Regions from separate parts of the Homo sapiens genome. Here all the other regions are linked to region 1. The links come from fine-mapping of genetic effects on gene expression. A gene starts in region 1. Each other region holds a variant in brackets. All regions are shown on one strand. Distances are from middle to middle.

Region 1 (6,975 bases):
ACCCTTGTCAATACTGAAATCACCTTTACAAACCTCCTGTCAAATGAGCTTTTGTGGATAAAAGAACAGGTTCCAGCCAGGTGCAGTAGCTCATGTCTGTAATCCCAGCACTTTGGGAGGCTGAGGCGGGTGATCACCTGAGGTCAGGAGTTCAAGACCAGCCTGGCCAACACGGTGAAACCCCATTTCTACTACTAAAAATACAAAAATTCTCTAGGCATGGTGGTACATGCCTGTAAACCCAGCTACTCGGGAGGCTGAGGCAGGAGAATCACTTGAACCTGGGAGGAGGAGGTGCAGTGAGCCAAGATTGCGCCACTGCACTCCAGCCTGGACAACAGAATGAGACTCCATCTCAAAAATAAAAAATAAAAAAATAAAAAAAAGAACAGGTTCCCAGGATTCACCCTGATCTACCCAACCAAAATATCCAGGAATATGTGCTTTTAAAAGTTCCTTGGCCAGGCGCAGTGGCTCACACCTGTAATCCTAGCACTTTAGGAGGCCGAGGCAGGCAGAACACAAGGTCAGGAGTTTGAGACCAGTCTCGCCAACATGATGAAACCCCATCTCTACTAAAAATACAAAAATCAGCCGGGCGTGGTGGCGCACACCTGCAGTCCCAGCTACTCGAGAGGCTGAGGCAGGAGAATTGCTTGAACCCAGGAGGCGGAGGTTGCAGTGAGCTGAGATCATGCCACTGCACTCCAGCCTGGGCGACAGAGTGAGACTCCATCTCCAGGAAAAAAAAAAAAAAAAAAAGAAAGAAAAAAGTTCCTTAAGCGATGCTGATGGTTGAGAACCACTTCCAGAAAACATGACACCTCTCTTAAGCATCTGCTGGAGACTGTTGTCCCCTTGGTTTCTGTGAAACTTATTGCTCTCCACCAAGATTATTCCCCAAGGCCTGTTCTTCACCTTTGGCTCTTCTCTCTCCCTCGGACCACTCCAGTTGCTCTAGCTCCCAAAAGATCTAGTCCAGTAATTCCAATAGCCTATGGGCAGGGACTCCTACCTGCAACTTCAAGTTCAACCTGTCTAAAACTGAACTTTTTCCCCTAAACCCAGGTGACAGTTCAGTTAACGCATTATCACTATTCCAGTCACCCAAGTTGAAACCTTGGATCATCTTTGACCCATCCCTCCCCTTCCTCCATCCCTGCTCCCCATCTCCACTACTTCATTAGACTGGTCACCAAATCCTAACCTATGGAAGTGTCTTGTAAGAGGTGTTACCAGGTAAATGAGTTACCAGGTTAATGAGTGCTCTGTCAGTTCATCTGTGAAACAAAGACCAACCTCTCAGGTTATATTAAGGGTTAAATAAGATAACGACCCCAGAATATAAAACATCTGATACTATACATATTACTCAGTATATACTCCTTTCTCCTCCACATCTTTCTGCAAACTACAATCAATCTAGACAAAAGTGTTCTCATCCTACTATGGAATGGTTAAACAACAGAACAGGAAGATTTGGAATCCACAAAATGAAATTTTTAGTTTCAGCTCTACGGTGAACTGGCTGTGTGTTCTTGGTCAAATCACTTAACCTTGCTGAATTGGTACGTAAACTTGAAACTTATCTGTTTCACAGAGACACTGAAGATCAAATGGCAAGACTTCATTAACCTGCCATAAGATCCTGCTAAAGGCCACCTCCAACAGCTCTCTCATCACTAAGATGGCACTTATGCCACTGACAAGGACGAGGAATAGCCTTAAGTTCTGAAATTGAATCCTAATGGAACCCCATTCCTCGTTTGGCCCTATTACCCTGGTAGCTACCAAGACATTCAAAGCTTTGGCTTCTGCTGAGGAAAGTAACATCTTACCAACCTGCAGCATGCATTAAGACTTCAGGAGGAAACATCTGAAGCATTTTATAAACTGTAACATCTAGAGAACTGAGGGAGGTATCATCAGCATTTCTATCTTCTTGGGTTTCTACAAATAGGCTTAATACTTGGCTGAATAGTTTCTTTTAATCTCATCAGAAGTCCCACCTCTCTTATAAAAACTTCACTTCTCAACCATCATTTCTATTTCCTTTCTTTACAATGGGCTCCATCAAATAATTGCCCTTAAAAAGTTTTCTATTACTTTCTGGGTTTTCTCTCTTTAACTGTGTCACAAGGAGAGAGAAACCATTACTTAAACACCCGTATCACCCTCACCTGCGGCAACTAAGAGTGTAAACTACATTCAGCAAAAGGTTGCTTACCACTACATTCAAAAGTGCCCAGTCAACTTCACTGAATGAGTATTGACAGCGTTTCCAACATACAATAAACTTAACCTGGAGGGTACGGAATTAAGCTCAAATAGAAATTTTAATAAGCACTACATTGACAGTCTTTGACCTGGGAAGTCACATTTCAAACAAGCGACCACACCCATTGATCAACACAATGCCTCCGTCATCCCCGCCAGCTCAAGTCTTTGGTAGTTCTGGGGCATGCACGTTTCTGTTGCTGTAAATGTCCTTCCTTCTGTCTGGCCTGCATGGATTTCGCTCCCTGACTAGCGGCCCCCAGCACCGTGAGGGGTACGCGCTGGCGGGTGCTGAGTAGGGCTCTTAACAGTCGGCTTACTACTTCTGAAACCTCAGGACGTCCGGAGCGAACACCTCAGCGGAATAAGCTGACATCCAATCCGCGCTTCAAATTACTGAAGCCATTCTCACAAGCTCAACCCCAGGACACCAGGAAAAGGAGGAAACAGGCTGGGAGAGCTTGGAGGAGCGGGCGCCAGGAGTCAGGGCAGGCCGGGGGCGGCGGCTCCCCAGACCGCAGGCCCGCCCGCCTCACCTGCAGCACCAAGGCCTGCGCGGCCCCGGGCGGGAAGCCCATGCGGTCCGATGGGTGGCGCAGCAAGCGATAGAAGTCTGTCTTGCGGTAGAGGAAGCCAAAGAGAACGCGCAGGAAATCCTGGACGTTGCCCACGTGCTGCAGGATGCCCAAAAGGGCCTGGTCATACAGCTCGGCCGCCCCTGTCTCCATGTCGCCTCCCGCCCTAGGTACGCTTCACACACACAGCGCCGCCTCAGACCTGCCGACTGGCCACTTCCGGCGTCCGCAGCCAACGGCTCCGCCGGACGGCGCGGCTGCGGAACTTCCGGTCCGTGCTCGTTCGGCCCCCGCGGCCCCGGGCTGTTTTCCCCAGACCCAGCTGCCCCACGGGCTTTGCCTTGAGGTGGTCTTAGACAAAAGAGCCCGACAAGGGCAGCAAGGAGGTTCCTACGCGGAAGGAAGCCCGTGGCTTCTGCTGCGCTGCGAGGGCTTGACCGCCATGTTTGAAGCGGGCGGAAAAAAATTATGGGGCGTGCAGTGTCACGTGACTGCTCGGATTTTTGTCACGTTGTCTGTGGATCCTTTCTTATTTCTGTGTTGAATTCCAGCCTGGGTATTTGGAACCTATGGTTAAAGATGGGGCTAGGGTAAGCTTTTTGTTAGTGAGCCAGAGACGGGAAAATGCGTATATGTGGGATGTATGGGTTTCTTATTAACAGATCTGTGAGTTAAACTCAGGGCGTTGCATCAGAAGAAAGTCAAGATGACGAAGAAAATAAAGAGTGCATTCAACGTATATTAAGTGGAAAGAGCTAGATTCAGAATAGAGAATCCGTATGCCATCGTTGTGAAATATGTACGTGTATGTGTGTGTATAGTATGTATATACATATATACGTCATATATACATATGTTGTTAGTGTCTGTCAAAGTATAATCTTAAAAAAGTAAAAAGCATGACACTCATACAAATATATCATGAACACATATCCAAGATTTCTTCAGCAAATTAACAATGATATGGTAAAGCTGGTTCAAAAGCATTTTGAGGAAGTGGAGATTAAACATTTTGACAAAGCATTAGAGTAAGATTAGGTTGGATACAAAGCTGGCTGGTGTTCTACAAGATGATAAAACCATAGATTATCATTTCTAGTGTATAGAAATGATTTGCACCTCTTCTAGATTAAAACATGCAAGTTAACATGTCTTCATAGTGTATAAGCTTTAATGAATTGTAAATAAAATCCAACTCAGGTAAATTGCCCTAGAACAGTGGTTCTGAAACTCTTGATTTAGGGACCATTAATCCTCTTAAAATTTGTTGAACATTCCAAAGAACATTTGTTGATATGGGTTATGCTTATCAATATTTACCACATTAGAAATTAAAACATAAAATGTTTAAATATTTATTTAATCATTTTTAAATGACCATAAAACACATTACATGTTAACATACTTTTATGCAAAAAATAATGTTCTTCAAAGCAATAAAAGTTCAGTGAGAGGAGTAACATAGTTTTACATTTTTGCAAATCTCTTTAATGAGCCTACTAGAAGACAGCAAGATTTGGCCGGCACAGTAGCTCATGCTTGTAATCCCAGCACTTTGGGAGGCCGAGGCGGGAGGATCAGGAGTTCGAGACCAGCCTGGCCAACACAGTGAAACCCTGTCTCTACTAAAAATACGAAAATTAGCTAGGCGTGATGGCAGGTGCCTGTAATCCCAGCTCCTCTGGAGGCTGAGGCAGGAGAATCGCTTGAACCCGGGAGGCAGAGGTTGCAGTGAGCCGAGATCACACCACTGCATTCCAGCCTGGGCGACAGAGCTAGACTCCGTCTCCACAAAAAAAAAGAAGACCACAAGATTCTCACATCTGCATTCACTGCAACATAATTTGCATTATGTTGTTTTCATTGAAGTATATGAAAACATGCAACCTCACACAGACAGTTGCAAATGAGAGGAATATTTTGTCTTTTCAAATAAATGTGGCTATTTGTCTTTAAAATGACATCAAAATTCTTCTACAAGCGATAGTTTCTATTTTTTTTATTTTTAAGAGGCAGGGTCTCCCTCTGTCACCCAGGCTGGAATGTAACGATGTGATCATAACTAACTGTAGCCTTGAACTCTTGAACTCAAGCAATCCTCCTGCCTCAGCCTTCTGAGTAGCTGGAACTACAAGCACATGCCACTGTGCCTGGCTAATTTTTAAATTATTTTTATAGAGACGAGGTTGGGCCTACATTGTTCAGGCTGGTCTGAAACTCATGGGCTCAAGCGATCCTCCCCTCTCAGCCTCCCAAAGTGCTGGAATTATAGGTGTGAGCCACTGCACCCAGCCCTGTAACTGGTAGTTTCTTAAAGGTTACTTGCCATATGGAATCTAAAACTGTATCTATAGACTTTTCATACTCTGTTACATTAATATCGATTGGTCTTTCACTTTGAATGGATCGTTAATAAATGCATGATTTTATACCATCATGTATTAATTAGTCATTTGAAAATGTTGGTCCACTGTGTTATGCAGCTCTTCCAAATGTTCACTCGTTTTATGCAACGAGCATATCTTGCCCCCAGATCTTGGTTTCTAATATCATTTCATTATATAATATCAAAAAATAACATTTGTTAGAATTACCACTAAACTCATCAGAGAAGTCTGTCTTTATTGACAAGCACTCAAGCTCATGGAAGCGGGATATGGGTTTTTTGAATTCTAATTTTAGCTTAAAAACTTGAACTTTATTATTGGAAGTAGATACAATCAATTATTTTCCTTGAAGAGACAGGCTCACTTCATTCTGTCATTCAAGTAAAAATGATGCTCTGTGACTTGTTCAATTGGCAACTCAATCACACAAGTGCTTTGCATCAGTGCAACCATTTTGCTTCAGTATGAGGCAGACATGTCTTATGTGTACTTCTCTTTTAATCATGCACTATTAAAAAGACTTGTTCTCAAGTGGAGAACTTTTAATAAAACAACTTTTAATAAAATTAATAATTAAATGCTATCAGGAGCATTCTTAAGTGAAACTGAACATTTTTAACCTGTAAGTGTAAGGCAGTGCATACTAGTCGAGTTTGGTGCCGTTATGGACTGAATGTGCCTGCCCCCCACCAGATTCATATGTTGAAGCCCCAGTCCTCAATGGGACTATATTTGGAGTCACATTGGTGGTTAGAAGGGCCTTTAAAAGATACTTAAAGGTTAAATGAGGTTATAAGGGTGGGACCTTAACCCAATGGAACTGGTATCCTCATAAGAGGAGAAGGAGACACTAGAGATCTCACTCTGCACACATGCAGAAGAAAGGCCATGTGAGGACACAGTGAGATTGCTTCAAGCTAGGAAGAGAATTCTCACCAGATACCAACACCTTGGTCTTGGATTTCTGGCCTCCAAGACTGTGAGAGAATAAACATGTGTTGTTTAAGCCACCCAGTCTATGGTACTTTGTGACAGCAGGAAGCTAGGACAATGGCCTGCCTTGATTCCTGCTGAGACACTTGCAGTTTTACCTGCCATTGCTTTTGCACCATCATTGCAAATGTCAACATGGTAAAAAAGCAAATAACATCATAGTATTGTTATTTTTACCTTGGAGGCCCCCCAGGGCCACATACTACACTCTGAGAATCACTGCCCTAGAGAATTAATGAATCTCGGGTGAGCCTGTTATATAATTCCTCAGTATAACTGGAAGCACATGCAGTCATCTTCTTGCTATATTCAAAGTTTTGAATAATTTTCTTTAGCACCTAAAGGAAGAAATGGAACAGACGCTGCATCTGGAGAAGGGAAATTGAGGGAAACACTATAAAACAGGAGAAAAACTTACTTTTGTATTTGATACCATATACATGCATTACCTATTCAAAAAGTAAATAAAATATCTTTTTTTTTTTTTTGAAACAGAGTCTCGCTCTGTCGCCCAGGCTGGGGTGTAGTGGCACAGTCTCAGCTCGGCTCACTGCAAGCTCCGCCTCCTGGGTTCACGCCATTCTCCCGCCTCAGCCTCCCGAGTAGCTGGGACTACAGGTGCCCGCCACCACACCCGGCTAATTTTTTGAATTTTTAGTAGAGACGGGGTTTCACCATTCACAGGATGGTCTCGATCTCCTGACCTTGTGATCCACCCGCCTCAGCCTCCCAAAGTGCTGGGA
Region 2 (6,975 bases), 120 kb before region 1:
TGGGCTCAAGTAATCCTCCCACCTCAGCCTCCTGAGTAGCTGGGACTACAGGCTCTTGCCACTATGCCCGGCTAATTTTTTGTATTTTTTTGTAGAGACAAGGTTTTACCATGTTGCCCAGGATGGTCTCAGACTCCTGGCCACAAACAATCCTCCTGCCTCAGCCTTCCAAAGTGCTGTGATTACAGCCGTGAGCCACCATGCCTAGCTGGTTTAATGCAATTCTTACCCAAATCTCAGCAAGATTTTTTTGTAGACATAGACAAGCTTATTTTAAAATTTATATGGAAAGGGAAAGACACTAGAATAGCCAAAACGTATGAAAAAGAAGAAAATTCATGATGTCAGGGCTTACCATATAGCGACGGTAATAAAGACAGTGTGGTATTGGTAGAGGAGCAGACACATAGATTAATGAAATAGAACAGAGATCCCAGAAATAGACCTACACAAACATTTGATTAATAATTAAATAAATAATAAAATAATATTTGATGAAGGAGCAAAAGTGGTTTAGAGGAGAAATGACAGCCTTTTCAACAAATGCTCCTGGAACAACTGGACATTCATAAGCCAAATAAATAAATAAATAAATAAACCTCACACCTTATACAAAAAATTAACTCAAAATGGATCATAGACTTAATGTAAAACATAAGCTATAAAACTTCTAGAAAAATAGGAGGAAAACTGTGAGATCTAGGACTAATCAAAGGTATTTTTAGACTTGACACCAAAGCTTGATGAATAAAAAGAAAATTTGATATACTGGACCTCACCAACATTAAAAGCTATTGCTCTGAAAAGACTATGTTAAAAGGATGAACAAACTAATTATAGACCAGGAGAAAATATTTGTAAATCACATATCCAGCAAAGGACTTTTATCTAAAATATATAAAGAATGCTCAAAACTTGATATTTAATGGCCAAAAGACTTGACACAACATTTCATCAAGGAAAATATACATATGGCAAAAAGCACATGACAAGATGCTCAGCATCGTTAGCCATTGGTAAAATGCAAATTAAATCACACAATAAGATATCACCGCACACCTGTTAGAACAGTCAAAATAAAAAATACTGACAGTACCTATAATAGTTTCATAGTGTTACTGTAGTAAATCACCACAAATTTCGTGGCTTAAAACACCACAGATGTATTATCTTACAGTTCTGGAGGTCAGAAGTCCAAAATGAGTTTAATGAGGCTTGTGGCTATCATCCTTCAAAGCCAGCAATGGCTGCTTGGTTGAGTCTTTTTCACTTCACATCACTCTTTTGCCTCCTTCTTCCACATTTAAAGGATTATTGTGATTATATTGGGTCTACCTAGATAATCCAGAATAATATTTTCTTAAGGTCAACTAATTAGCACTCTTAATTCCATCTGCAACCAAAATTCTCCCTTGCATAACTTATTTCATAGGTCTGGAGGATTAGGATGTGGACTTTTGTGGGAGCCATTTTTCTGCCTATCACAATACCAAATGTGAGCAAGGATGCAGAGAAACTGGAGCTCACATATTGCTGGTTGGAATGTAAAATGGCAGAGGCACTCTGAAAAAGTTTGACAATTTTCTATAAAGTTAAACATATACTTAAACATATGACCCAGTAATTGCACTCCTGGGTATTTATCCTAAAGAAATGAAATTTTATGTTCAATTTTAAAACTCTATATATGAATATTCACAGCAGTTTTATTTGTAATAGACAAAAATTGGAAACTACTCAAATGTCCTTCAATGGGTAGGCCATTAAACAAATTGTGGTTCATCCATGTACTATGGCATATTATTCAAAAATTAAAAGAAACTATGATATACACAGCATCTTGAATGGACCTCAAGGAAATTATGGTGAATGAAAAAGCCAATCTCAAAAAGATAAACATTGCATAATTCCATTTATATAACATTCATGAAACAATGTAATTATAGCCAAGGAGATCAGATTAGTGGTTTCCAGGGGTTGGGCATGAGGGGCCGTGCCTATAAAGAGGCAGCACGAGGGAACCTTTTGGCTACCAAATAGTTCTGTATCTTGATTGTGGTAGCAGTTTTATAAAATTACATGTGATGAAATTGCATACAGCTATAAGCACACATGCGCACACACAAGTGCATGTAGAATTGGTGGAATCAGAATAAGCTCTGTAAATGGTACTGATGTCAATCTTCTGGTTTTGATGCTGTGCTGTGGCTTCATAAAATGTTTCCATTGGGGTAGTCTGAGTGAAGGGTGCATGAAGTATTTCTTCACAACTTCCGGTGACTCTATAATTGTTTCAAAATAAGTGGTGACGATTGCTTCTCGGCCTTTTGGCTAAGATCAAGTGCAAAATACATGGTGACATCAGCAGGATGGCCAACTGGAAGTTCCTAGCACTTGTCCCCTTCACAAAGAAAGCCAGAATAGCAACATTTTAATGAAACAAAACAATCAAACAAACAAAAAACAGGGAGAGCACTGGAGTGCATCAGAGAAGTAACAGAAACCCTGGTGAGCACAGAAACTTGGAATAGTCAAATAAAGAAAGGAAGAAATGCTGGGCCTTACCCCATCCCCAAACCAGGATCATCTGGGAACCAGGAGGAACTTCTTCCTACAGCAAGAAGGTAAGCAAGAGGATCCCAGCAACCCCCACCAACACCTCGAACACATACAGACCTCATCAGTAGGGTGCCCTGCAGTCTTTACAAGGACTAAGCCCAGCTGAGGGAGCTGCCTCCAGTCCACATACCTATGCTCCCTCCAGAGGAGACGCTGACACTGTGCCTCGCCCCCTGTGGCCTGTGTAGCTACTGTGCTACACCATCTTGGAATTGCAACTACAGCTAGAGTGTCTTACTCGGCGGGTGAGTAGCCACAACTCCTCTTCATCCCTGAAGCTAAGTCATCACTGAACTACCCCAGTCTAGTAGCCCAACATCCACAAGCTGAGCTGCAAACAGCTGTTATACTCTTTCCCATGGGATCAAGGGTGGAGCTACTCTACCTACCCCTCCCTACCCCAGGCCAGAGCTGAAGCACTACCCTCTCTCCTGGAAAAACAGTATCTTGGCCATTCAGAGCAATCACACCTTCCTGGTGCCTAAGTTGAAGCAGCACCCTGCATCCCAGGAAATGGTGCCTGGTCCTCCCAGAATAGTCATATCCCCCAGGCCTGAGCTGAACTAGCATACCATCCCCTGGGCAATCAGTGCCCTGGCTAAGCTGAGCAGTTGTACATCCCAGGGCTGAGCTTATGTAGTACCCCGGGTCCCAGAGAAACAGAGCAGTGGCTGAACTGAGACACTCGCACCCCCCACAGGCCATAATACTCAAGTACTTCCCTGGAGCTGGACTAGCCCCCTAGAGTTTGAGCTGCTGAGACACCCCTCTCCCTGGGGAGTGGAGTCACTGCTGTTTTGTTTCCTGTCCCCCACCACCCCAAGGCCCAAATGACAGCTGTGCTCTGGCATTCTGGGGTCACAGAATCTAGGATACTGCTAAGCCCCACCATCCCAGGGTCTAGAGTCACCACTACACGATGCCTCATCCTTTGGGACCTGAGTTGCCAATGAGCTCTATTGGCCCAGGTTCCTGAATTGCAGCCATATTCTGCTCCTCAGGCTCAAATCTGCAAAGCAGCCCTTCTTCC[C/A]AGGAGTCAGGCCAGTGCTATGCTTTGTCCCCAGGGGTAGAATCACAGCTATAAACCAGCCCCTGGGCCCAAGCAGCTAGGGGTTGCCACAGAGTCACAGATATTGGCTCTGTGGGCAACCTACACCAAACCCTGCCACATACCACAAGGCACAGGTGCTGCAGTAGGTTCACAGATGCTGAGCCTAGGATCCCAGCCCCATGGCCACTCTGAGCACCTGCAGTTGGAATCAGCACCACTGTAGCTGCTTGTAGGCTGTGTCAGACCTGATGGCAAAGGAGAACCCCTCAGACAGGTCCCCCCACTGTGGGGAAAAAATGAGAATAGGAGGACCTCAAAAGCCCTTGACACTGAGGACATTAACATCCTACACTGCTGCCACAAACTTCTACAGCCTAGGTCACTGAAGTGTCCATAGTTACTGCTGGCATTGAATGAAGCTGAAGAAGACTTCATTCAACAAAGAAAACTATATCACTGCATCTATCTGGAAGCAGAGTCACCACACCCTCTCCAGCAAGCCCACTAAAACCCAAATGCAAGTGAAAGTCTTTCTCTATGAGTCACTCTACAAAGTTTGGAAGTGGCTATTGTCCTAACAGATGCACAAACATCAGTGCAGGAGCACAAGAAACATGAAAAAGCAAGGAAATATGACACCGCCAAAGGTACATAATAACTCTCTAGCTACAGACCCCAATAAAAAAGAAATCAATTAATTGCCAAATTCAAAATAATGATCTTAAGGAAACTCAACAAAATACAAGAAAATATAGATAGACAATTCAACAAAATGAGGAAACCAATTTACAATATGAATGAGAAATTCAACAAAGAGATAGAAATCATAAAAAAAAAGAACCAAATGGAAACCCTACAACTAAAGAATTCAGTGAATGAAATTCAAAATACAGTAGAGAGCTTCAACAGCAGACTTGATCAAGCAGAAGAAAGAATCACTGAACTTAAAGACAGGTCATTTGAAAGTCCCCAGTCAGAGGGGGACAATAAAGAAATAAGAATGAAGAAAGCCTGTAAGACTTATGGAATACCATTAAGCAAACACATATTTATATTATGGAAATTTCAGAAGGAGAAGAGAAGGGAAAAGGTATAGAAAACCTAATTAATGAAATAATAGTTGAGAATTTCTCAATTCTGGGGGAGATATGAACATCCAGATCCAGGAAGCTCAAATATTCCCAAATAGATTGAACCCAAAAAGATACTTCTCAAGGGATATTATAGTCAAACTGTCAAGAGTCAAAGACAAAGAGAGAATTCTAAAAACAGTAAAAGAAAAGCACCAAGTCACATATAGAGGAATCCCCATTAGATAAATAGGTGATTTCTCTGCAGAAAACTTAGAGGCCAGGAGAGAATAAAATGTTATATTCAAAGTGCTGAAAGTAAAAAAAATTGCCAGCCAGGAATATTAACCCAGAAAAGCTACCCTTTAGAAATGAGGGAGAAATAAAGTATTTCCCAGATAAGTAAAAACAAAGAATTCACCAGTAAACCAGCCTTGCAAGAAATGCTCAGGAGTTCTACATCTGGATGTAAAAAGGCAATAACTACTATCATGAAAACATGCAAAAGTATAAAACTCATTGGTAGAGCAGATATACAAAGGAGAAAGACAAAAAAATCAAACCTTACCACTACAGAAAACCACCAAACCACAATGAAACAGAGTTAAGAGAAAAAATAAAGGAACAAAGGATATGCAAAACAACCACAAAACAACTAACAAAATGATAGAAGTCCTCTCCTATCAATAATAAACCTTGAATGTAAACAATTAAATTTCCTACTTAAAAGATATAGACCGGATGAATAGGTTTTTTAAGTGAGTCAATTATATGTTGCCAACAAGAAACTCACTTCATCTGTAAAGACATAAATAGACTGAAAGTGAAGGGATGAAAGAAAAAAAACAAACATTCTATGCAAATGGAAACCTAATGTGAGCAGGAATAGCTATACTTGTATCAGATTAAACAGACTTTGAGTCAAAAACTGTAAAAAGTGACAAAGAAGGTCACTATATAATGATTAAGGGATCAATTCAGCAAGAAGATATAACAATTGTTAAGTATATACACACTCAACACCAGAACACCCAGATATATAAAGCAAATATTAGATCTAAAGGGAGAGATATATTCCAATATAATAATAGTTGGGGATTTCAACACCCTACTGTCAGCACTGGACAGATCATCTAGACAGAAAATCAACAAACACTGGATTTAAACTGCACTTTAGACCAAATGAACCTCACACTTACAGAACATTTATTCCAACTGTTGCAGAATATGCATTCTTTTCATCAGCACATGGAACAGTCTTCACGACAGACTACATGTTAGGTCACAAAACAAGTCTCAACCATTTTAAAAGAACTGAAATTATATCAAGTATCTCTTCTGACCACTATAAAATAAAACTAGAAATCAATAATAATAGGAAGTTTCAAAATTGTACAAATACATGGAAATTAAACAACAGGCTCCTGAATGACCAATGGATCAATGAAGAAATTAAGAATGAAATTAAAAATGTTCTTGAAACAAATGAAAATAGAAATACAACATACCAAAACCTGTGGGACACAGCAAAAGCAGTATTAAGAGGCAAGCTTATACAATAAATGTCTACATCAAAAAAGTAGAAAGATTTCAAAAAACAACCTATTGATGCATCTCAAGGAACTAGAAAAGCAAGAACAAACCAAACCCCAAATTAGTCCAAGAAAAGAAACAATAAATGTCAGAGCAGAAATCACTGAAATGGAGACTAAGAAAAATAAAAGATCAACAAAATAAAAATTTGTTTTTTGAAAAGATAAACAAAATTGGCAAACCATTAGCTAGACAAATCAAAGGAAAAAAAGGACCCAAATAAATAAAATTAGAAATAAAAAAGAGACATTGCAACTGATACCACAGAAATACAAAGGATCATCAGAGACTATTACAAACAGCTGCATGCCAACAAATTAGAAAACCTAGCAGAAATGGATAAATTCCTGGACACATACAACCTACTGATATTGACCCAAGATGAAATAGAAAACCTGAATAAACCAATTATGAGCAGTGAGATTGAATCTGTAATAAAAAGTCTCCCATGGCCGGGCGCGGTGGTTCACGCCTGTAATCCCAGCACTTTGGGAGGCCAAGGCGGGAGGATCATGGGGTCAGGAGATCAAGACCATCCTGGCTAACACGGTGAAACCCAGTCTCCAGTAAAAAATACAAAAAAATTATCCAGGTGTGGTGGTGGACTCCTGTAGTCCCAGCTACGCGGGAGGCTGAGGCAGG
Region 3 (6,975 bases), 150 kb before region 1:
GTAGACATCAAGATTTTCTTTCCATATATATATTCAATTCACCCGGGAATAATTTTATAAAAAATTATTTTCCCATTATATGATAAAGTGTTTCTGGACTCTGATTCATTCCGTTATTCTATTTGTCTGTACTTGACCAAGATCACACTGGATGATTCCTGTAGTTTTACAGTGAGTCTAGATGCATGGTAGTATAAGTCCTCCAGCTTTGATGTTGCTCCTCCTCCCCTTCTCATCCTTGTCCTCTTCCTCCTCCTCTACCTCCTCTTCCTTCTCCTTCTTCAAATTTATCTTACCTATTCTTGGTTCTTTGCAATTTCAAGTAGATTTTAGAATCAGTATGTCATTTACACACACACACACACACACGCACACAAGCGCGTGCACATACACACACCATCAAAACGCTTCTAGGATTTGGGGGTGGGGTGTGTGTGCACTAAAACTATAGCTCAGATTCCAGAGAATCAAAATTATTTAATATTGCATCTTGCAATCCACAAATATGGGATATATCCTTCCACTTATTTAGATGTACTTATCTCAGTAAATAATTTCCTGTGTAAACGTTTTGCATGTCTTTTGTTAGATTTACTACTAGGTATTTGTTGGTTTTGAACACTATTATAAATGATTTTTTTTTTTTTTTGAGATAGAGTCTCGTTCTGTCGCCCAGGCTGAAGTGCAGTGGCGCGATCTCGGCTCACTGCAACCTCTGCCTCCCGGATTCAAGCGATTCTCCTGCCTCAGCCTCCCAAGTAGCTGGGATTACAGGTGCCCACCACCATGCCTGGCTAATTTTTGTATTTTTAGTAGAGACGGGATTTCACCATGTTGGCCAGGCTGGTTTCAAACTCCTGACCTCAGGTGTTCCACCCACCTCGGCCTCCCAAAGTGCTGGGATTATAGGCATGAGCCACCATGCCCAGCTAATAAATGGTAATTTTTATATCTTTTTTTATTGTTTGTTGCTGATACATATAAGCACAATTTTAAAAATATCGACATTTGTACTAGTCAGCTCAGGCTACCATAACAAAATACCACAGACAGGGTGGCTTAAACAGCAGAGATTAGTGTTCCCACAGTTCTGGAGGCTGGAAGTTCAGGATCAGTGTGCCTGCATGGTTGGGTTCTGGTGAGGGCCCTCTTCCTGGCTTGCAGAGGGCTGTCATCTGGCTACCCATTGTCTGTGTATGGGGACAGAGAGATCTTTCTTCCTCTTCTTAGAAGGCCACCAATCCTATCAGATTAGGATGGCACCCATATGACCTCGTTTAACCTCAATTACTTCCTAAAGGCCCCACTCCAAACTGAATCACACTGGGGGTTAAGGCTTCAACACAGGAATTTTGGGAGGACACAATTCCATCCACAGCAACATTATAGCCAACAACCTTGCCAATTTTGCATATTAATTCTAAGAAGTTGCCTGAAATTCTTTTGCATAGTTGATGCACACAATGATGTCATCTGTAAATAATGACTTTTCTTTCTTCCTCTCCTCCCTTTAGGTCTGCTCGCCTTGCCTTTTGTGGTTGCTGGGCCCTCCAGGACAATGTCGAGTAGTATTGTGGGTATCCTCAGCTCATGCCAAATCTCAGGGGGAAGGTTTTAAATATTTCATCATTAAGAAGGTTTTTTATAGATACTTTTTTAACAGAATAAGAAAGCTCCCTTCTATTCCTAGGACATGATCTGAATAATTCTAATCTTTTGAAAATGTGTTGAAACTTATGGCTCAACCATATGATCAATTCTTGTAATGTTCCATATGCATCAGAAAAGCGTGCGTGCGCTGTCATGATTGGGTATGGCATTCTACAGCTGTCAAATATGTCAAGTTTGTTCATCACGTTAGGCAGGTATTCTACTTGCTGAGTTTTTTGTCTGCTGTTCTCTTATTTATTATAAGAGGAGGGTTAAAGTCTTCCACTGTGATTGCCAATTTTTCCTTCTCCTTTTAGCATTGTCAGTTTTTACTTTATATAATATGAAGTTATGTGCAGTTCATATAGATTTTTACATTGTATATTTTTGGTGAGTCCACCTTATCACTTTATGTTCCCCCTCCTCTACAGTTGTCCTATTTTCTTAATGTCTATTTCATTTAGTGATAGTACAGCTGCATTAACTTTCTTTTGATTAGTGCTTTCATGGTGTGCAGAAAAAGGTTAACTCATCAGGCTTGGTTGGTCCAGGGCCTGCACATGCCAAGAATGGACTTCCCCTTGGTAGGTTCCAGAGAGGCAACCCTTGGAATATCCTGCTTGAAAGCTTGTTTTTGTTTGCCTGAGACCTTGGGCCATGCTGTATCCATTAAGTCAGTGTTATGGACTGAATTTTGTTCCCCCAAAACTCATAGGTTGAAACCCTAACTCCCAGCACCTTAGAATGTGACTGTATGTGGGGATAGGGCCATTAAAGAGATAATTAATCATGCCTGTAACCCCGGCACTTTGGGAGGCCGAGGCAGGTGGATCACCTGAGATCAAGAGTTCGAGACAAGCCTGACCAACAGGTGAAACCCCATCTCTACTAAAAATACAAAAATTAGCTGGGTGTGGTGGCGGGCACCTGTAATCCCAGCTACTCTGGAAGCTGAGGCAGGAGAATTGCTTGAACCTGAGAGGTGGAGGTTGCAATGAGCCAAGATTGCCCCATTAAACTCCAGCCTGGGAGACAGAGCAAGACTCCATCTCAAAAAAAAAAAAAAAATGGTAATTAAGTTAAATGAGGCCCTAGGGTGAGCCTTAATCCAATCTGACAGATGTCCTTTCTAAGAGAGGAGAGTAGGACACACAGACACAAAGAGCAAAGACCACATGCAGACAAAGCAAGAAGACGGCCACCTGCAACCCAAGAGAGAGGCCTCAGGAGGAACCAACCCTGCTGACACTTGGGTCTTGGACTTCCAGCCTCCAGAACTGTGAGAAAATAAATTCCTGTTGTTTAAGCCCCTCAGTCTCTGGCATTTTGTTGTGGCAGTCCTATAAACCAGTAAAACCAGATAGCTTATGCTAACAATGTGGCTTTTGTGATGTGTGTCTGAGGTCCTGGGCTATGCTGTATCACTTTGGCCTCTTAGGGGCTGAGTAGCTAAGGTCAGTCATGCAGACAATTCCTGCCTATGTGACTGACACTCCGTAAAAACTCTGGACATCGAGGCTCAAATGAGCCTCCTCGATTGGCAGTACTTAGTATGTGATTGCACATAGTTGCTGGGAGAATTAAGCATACTCCAAGCAGCTTCACTAGGAGGGGACATTTGGATGCTTGTGCTCACTTTCCCCTGGACTTTGCTCATGTGCCTTTTCCATTAGGTGATTTTAATCTGTAACCTCCTGCTTTAAGAAACTGTGTGGGCCAGGTGCAGTGGCTCATGCCTGTAATCTCAGCACTGTGAGAGGCCCAGATGGGCAGATCACAAAGACAGGAGTTCGAGACCAGCCTGGCCAATATAGTGAAACTCTGTCTCTGCTAAAAATACAAAAATTAGCCAGGCGTAGTGGCACATGCCTGTAGTCCCAGCTACTTGGGAGGCTGAGGCAGAAGAAGTGCTTGAACCCGGGAGGCGGAGGTTGCAGTGATCCGAGATCGCGCCACTGCACTCCAGCCTGGGCGACAGAGTGAGACTCCGCCTCAAAAAAAAAAAAAAAAAGAAAAACTGTGC[G/T]ATCATGAGTATAACAGCTCTTGTGAGGCCAGTGAGTCCTTCCAGTGAATCATCAAGTCAGAAAGTGGCCCCACAACATACACATGGTTATATTTTTTCATTCCTTTACCTTCAACTTTTCTGCATCCTTATACTTAAGATGTGTCTCTTGTAGCAACATATAGTTTAATTTTTTTTGGTTTTATTTTGTTTTCATTCAGTCTATCTTAGTCTTTTACTTGGGGTGTTTAGTCCATTTACATGTAAATGTATTTCCTGATATATTTTAGTTTATACCTACTATGTGAATTTTTTTCTTTGTCCCACCTGTTTTATATTCCTTTTCCTCTTTTTTGCCTTTCTTTGGATTAAACATTTTTTATTATTCCATTCTCCATACCTATCATTCTATTAGTTATGCATTTATTTACTATTATGTTATTACTTACTATTGACATCATTTTATTATTATTTCAGTGGTTACCCTTGATGACAAGATTCCAGAAGAACTCCCTGTACACATTAAAACATTTTTTTCCCTAAAAAATCTTCATTTTACCTTTATTTTTGAAGAATATTTTGGCTATAGAATTCTGTAGAATTCCAGGTTGGCAGTGATTTTTTCCAGCAGTTTAAAAATGTTATTTCTTTCCTTCTGACTCCAGTAATTTGTTTTGAAAAATCTGTCATCAGTCTGATTGTTACTCCTGTGGTTACCCTATTTTCCTCTGGCTTCTTTTAACATTTAAGATTGCCTTTGTATTTATCCTGCTTGGGGTTACTGAGTATCTTGAGTTTGTGGGTTGAAGGCATTAATTTGTTTCTAAAATGATCATACTCTAATATTGCTTCTGCTCCATCACCTTTCTTTTCTCCTTCTGGGTCTTCAGTTGTACATATATTAGAACTTTTCAACATGTTCCACATATCTCTTATACTCTTTTCTCTATTTTTTCATCTTTTAAAAATTCTTTGTGTATCAGTCTTGATATTTTCTGTTGTCCTGTCTTCTACTAATCCTCTTCTACTTCTACTAATCCTACCAGTCTACTTCCATTAGTCCTGTCTCCTGTTGTATTCCATCCATTCTTACATCTGTTGTATTCTAAATATCAGCTACTGTGTTTTCAACTCTGAGATTTATATATTTTTTCTTTAGTGAAATTGTCTATCTTGTTACCTGTTTTCTCTAAAATATTAATAGCTGTTTTAAAGTCTGTGTCTGATACCTCTAATATCTGTATCACCTGGGAATTTTGCCCTTTTTTTTTCTTGGTATGCTTATTACTTTTTAATTGAATGTTGGACATAGTGTGCAACAATTTATAGAAGCTCTGGATTCCATTAACTTCCTCCAGAGACCATTCACCTTATCCTTGGGGCAGCTACAGTGTGAGCAGACTACCTTCATCCAAAGCAGCATGAGGCAGGATTGCAGTCCTTTTACATCTCATTCTCTCTTTGCTTCATGCCCACCCCTAGGGTGTTGCCCTCCTGAGACCCCAGCTAGGGTCCTGAACTCCCATTTTTGTCTCTTCATAACCATGAGATCATAGAAAAACTTCATCTTTTCACTGGCTTTCTTATTAGCTCCTCACCATGTGTATTTAATACATGGGCAAATGCTTCAAGGGAAACCTCTGAGTTTGGGGCTCCTGGCCTCTTGGGTGCTGGCTATCCTGTCAGCTCTATAATTAATTTTTTATTCTCTTCTCCATGAAATTGCTGAAAGATCTGCTGGCTTCTCTGCCTCTTAAAGTAATAGTCCTATGCTCAGATTCCTAGCCTCTCTAAGAACTGGTCATCACCTGGAGGGGTAAATGATGTGCAGAATATCAGCTCATCTCTCTCCAATTCTCTTCTATTTGGAAACTTGGTTCCTTAAGCCCTGGTTATCTGCAGTTGTCCAGTGCCTTCAAACCAGTTTTTTTAATCTGGATTTTCTAGTTGTTCTCAGTGGGGTCAGTGATCTGCTCCAAATACTCCATTATAGCTGGAAATGGAAACTCGAGGAAGGGTAATTTTATAGATGGCACCAAATTGAATGTGTTTCTAGACAGAGTAAAGTGAACACATGAAAATAATTATGACAGCTCCCCCATATTGAGCTCTTACTATGTGCCAGACTTTGTGCTATGTGACTACATATATTATGTCATTTGATTTTTACAGCAAGCTTTTACAGCAAGGCTAGGTACTATATCTATTCCCATTTTACAGATGTGGAAACTGAGGCTTAAAGAGGCTAATTAACTTGTCCAATCAATCTTTTTATCCCCTGGAGGCAAAATGCATAGAAAAAATTTTGACTTTTAAAAAAATTGTGTATACATATGTGTGTGTGTATACATACAGAGAAGTGTGTGTGTGTATATATATATAAAAAACACGATTTGTGATTTTAACAAATTTTAAGTGTACAATTCAGCGGCATTAAGTACATTCACACAATGTTGTGCAATCATCACCACCAACTATTTCCAAAACTTCTTCATTACCCCAGAGATTCTATAGCCATTAAGTAATAACTCCCCTATAATCTCCTATAATCTATAGCCATTAAGTAATAACTCCCCTTTCTTTCTGTTTCTATGAACTGGCCTATTCTAGATATTTCAGGTAAGTGGAATCAGACATTATTTGTCCTTTTGTGTCTGGCTTATTTCTCTTAGCACAATGTTTTCAAGGTTCATCCATATTGTAGCATGTATCAGAACTTTGTGCCTTGTTAAGACTGAATGATATTCCATTGTCTGTGTAAATATCACATTTTGTTTATTCCTCAATCAGCTGGTTAACATTGGGGTTCTTTCCTACTTTTGGCTATTGCAAATAATGCTGCAGTGAACAATGGCATACGAGTATATGTTTGAATCCTGTTTTCAATTCTTTGGGGGATATACCTAGGAGTGGTAATTCTATGTTTAACCTCTGAGGAACCACCAAACTGTTTTCCATAGCAGCTGCGCCATTTTACATTCCCAGCAGTGACGTATGAGGTCTCCAGTTTCTCCATGGCCTCCTCAATACTTACATTCTTTTCTTTCCTAAGTACAGCCATTCTACTATGTGTGAGGTGTATCTCATTGTGGTTTTTGCACTTCCTATTAACTAATGATACAAAGTATATTTTTATGTGCTTATTGGAAATTTGTATATCTACTTTAGAGAAATGTCTATTCGAGTCCTTTGCCCATATTTTGATTGGATTGTTTGTCTTTTTGTTGTTGAGTTGTAGGAGTCCCCTTCTGTATTCTGGATAACCTTTCTTAGATATATGATTTATAAATATTTTCTTCTACTCTGTAGGTGGTATTTTCACT

Alleles and levels. Alleles are on the strand shown, and positions count from the first base shown. SD is a standard deviation of normalised expression in the study named. Not every link is listed here.
With allele G in place of T in region 3, the expression in breast of the gene that starts at base 3,063 in region 1 is lower (moderate effect, 0.54 SD a copy in GTEx).

Evidence for each region. PIP is the estimated chance that this variant, and not a neighbour inherited with it, causes the effect.
Region 2: its variant is the best candidate, but not a certain one, in a credible set for the expression of NUDCD3 in whole blood (TOPMed, PIP 0.57).
Region 3: its variant is the best candidate, but not a certain one, in a credible set for the expression of NUDCD3 in breast (GTEx, PIP 0.59).

Annotation. Positions count from the first base shown.
Region 1 is chr7:44,487,596-44,494,570 of GRCh38, forward strand. NUDCD3 (NudC domain containing 3) reads right to left here and starts at 3,063. Exons shown (of 6, transcript NM_015332.4): 1 at 2,814-3,063. The coding sequence starts at 3,005. RefSeq lists silencers at 2,645-2,814, 4,880-5,006.
Region 2 is chr7:44,364,885-44,371,859 of GRCh38, forward strand. No RefSeq gene overlaps it. Among named protein-coding and RNA genes, the nearest start is that of CAMK2B, 43 kb to the left of the region's middle. The variant C/A (reference allele first, on the strand shown) is at 3,650.
Region 3 is chr7:44,340,141-44,347,115 of GRCh38, forward strand. No RefSeq gene overlaps it. Among named protein-coding and RNA genes, the nearest start is that of CAMK2B, 18 kb to the left of the region's middle. The variant G/T (reference allele first, on the strand shown) is at 3,674.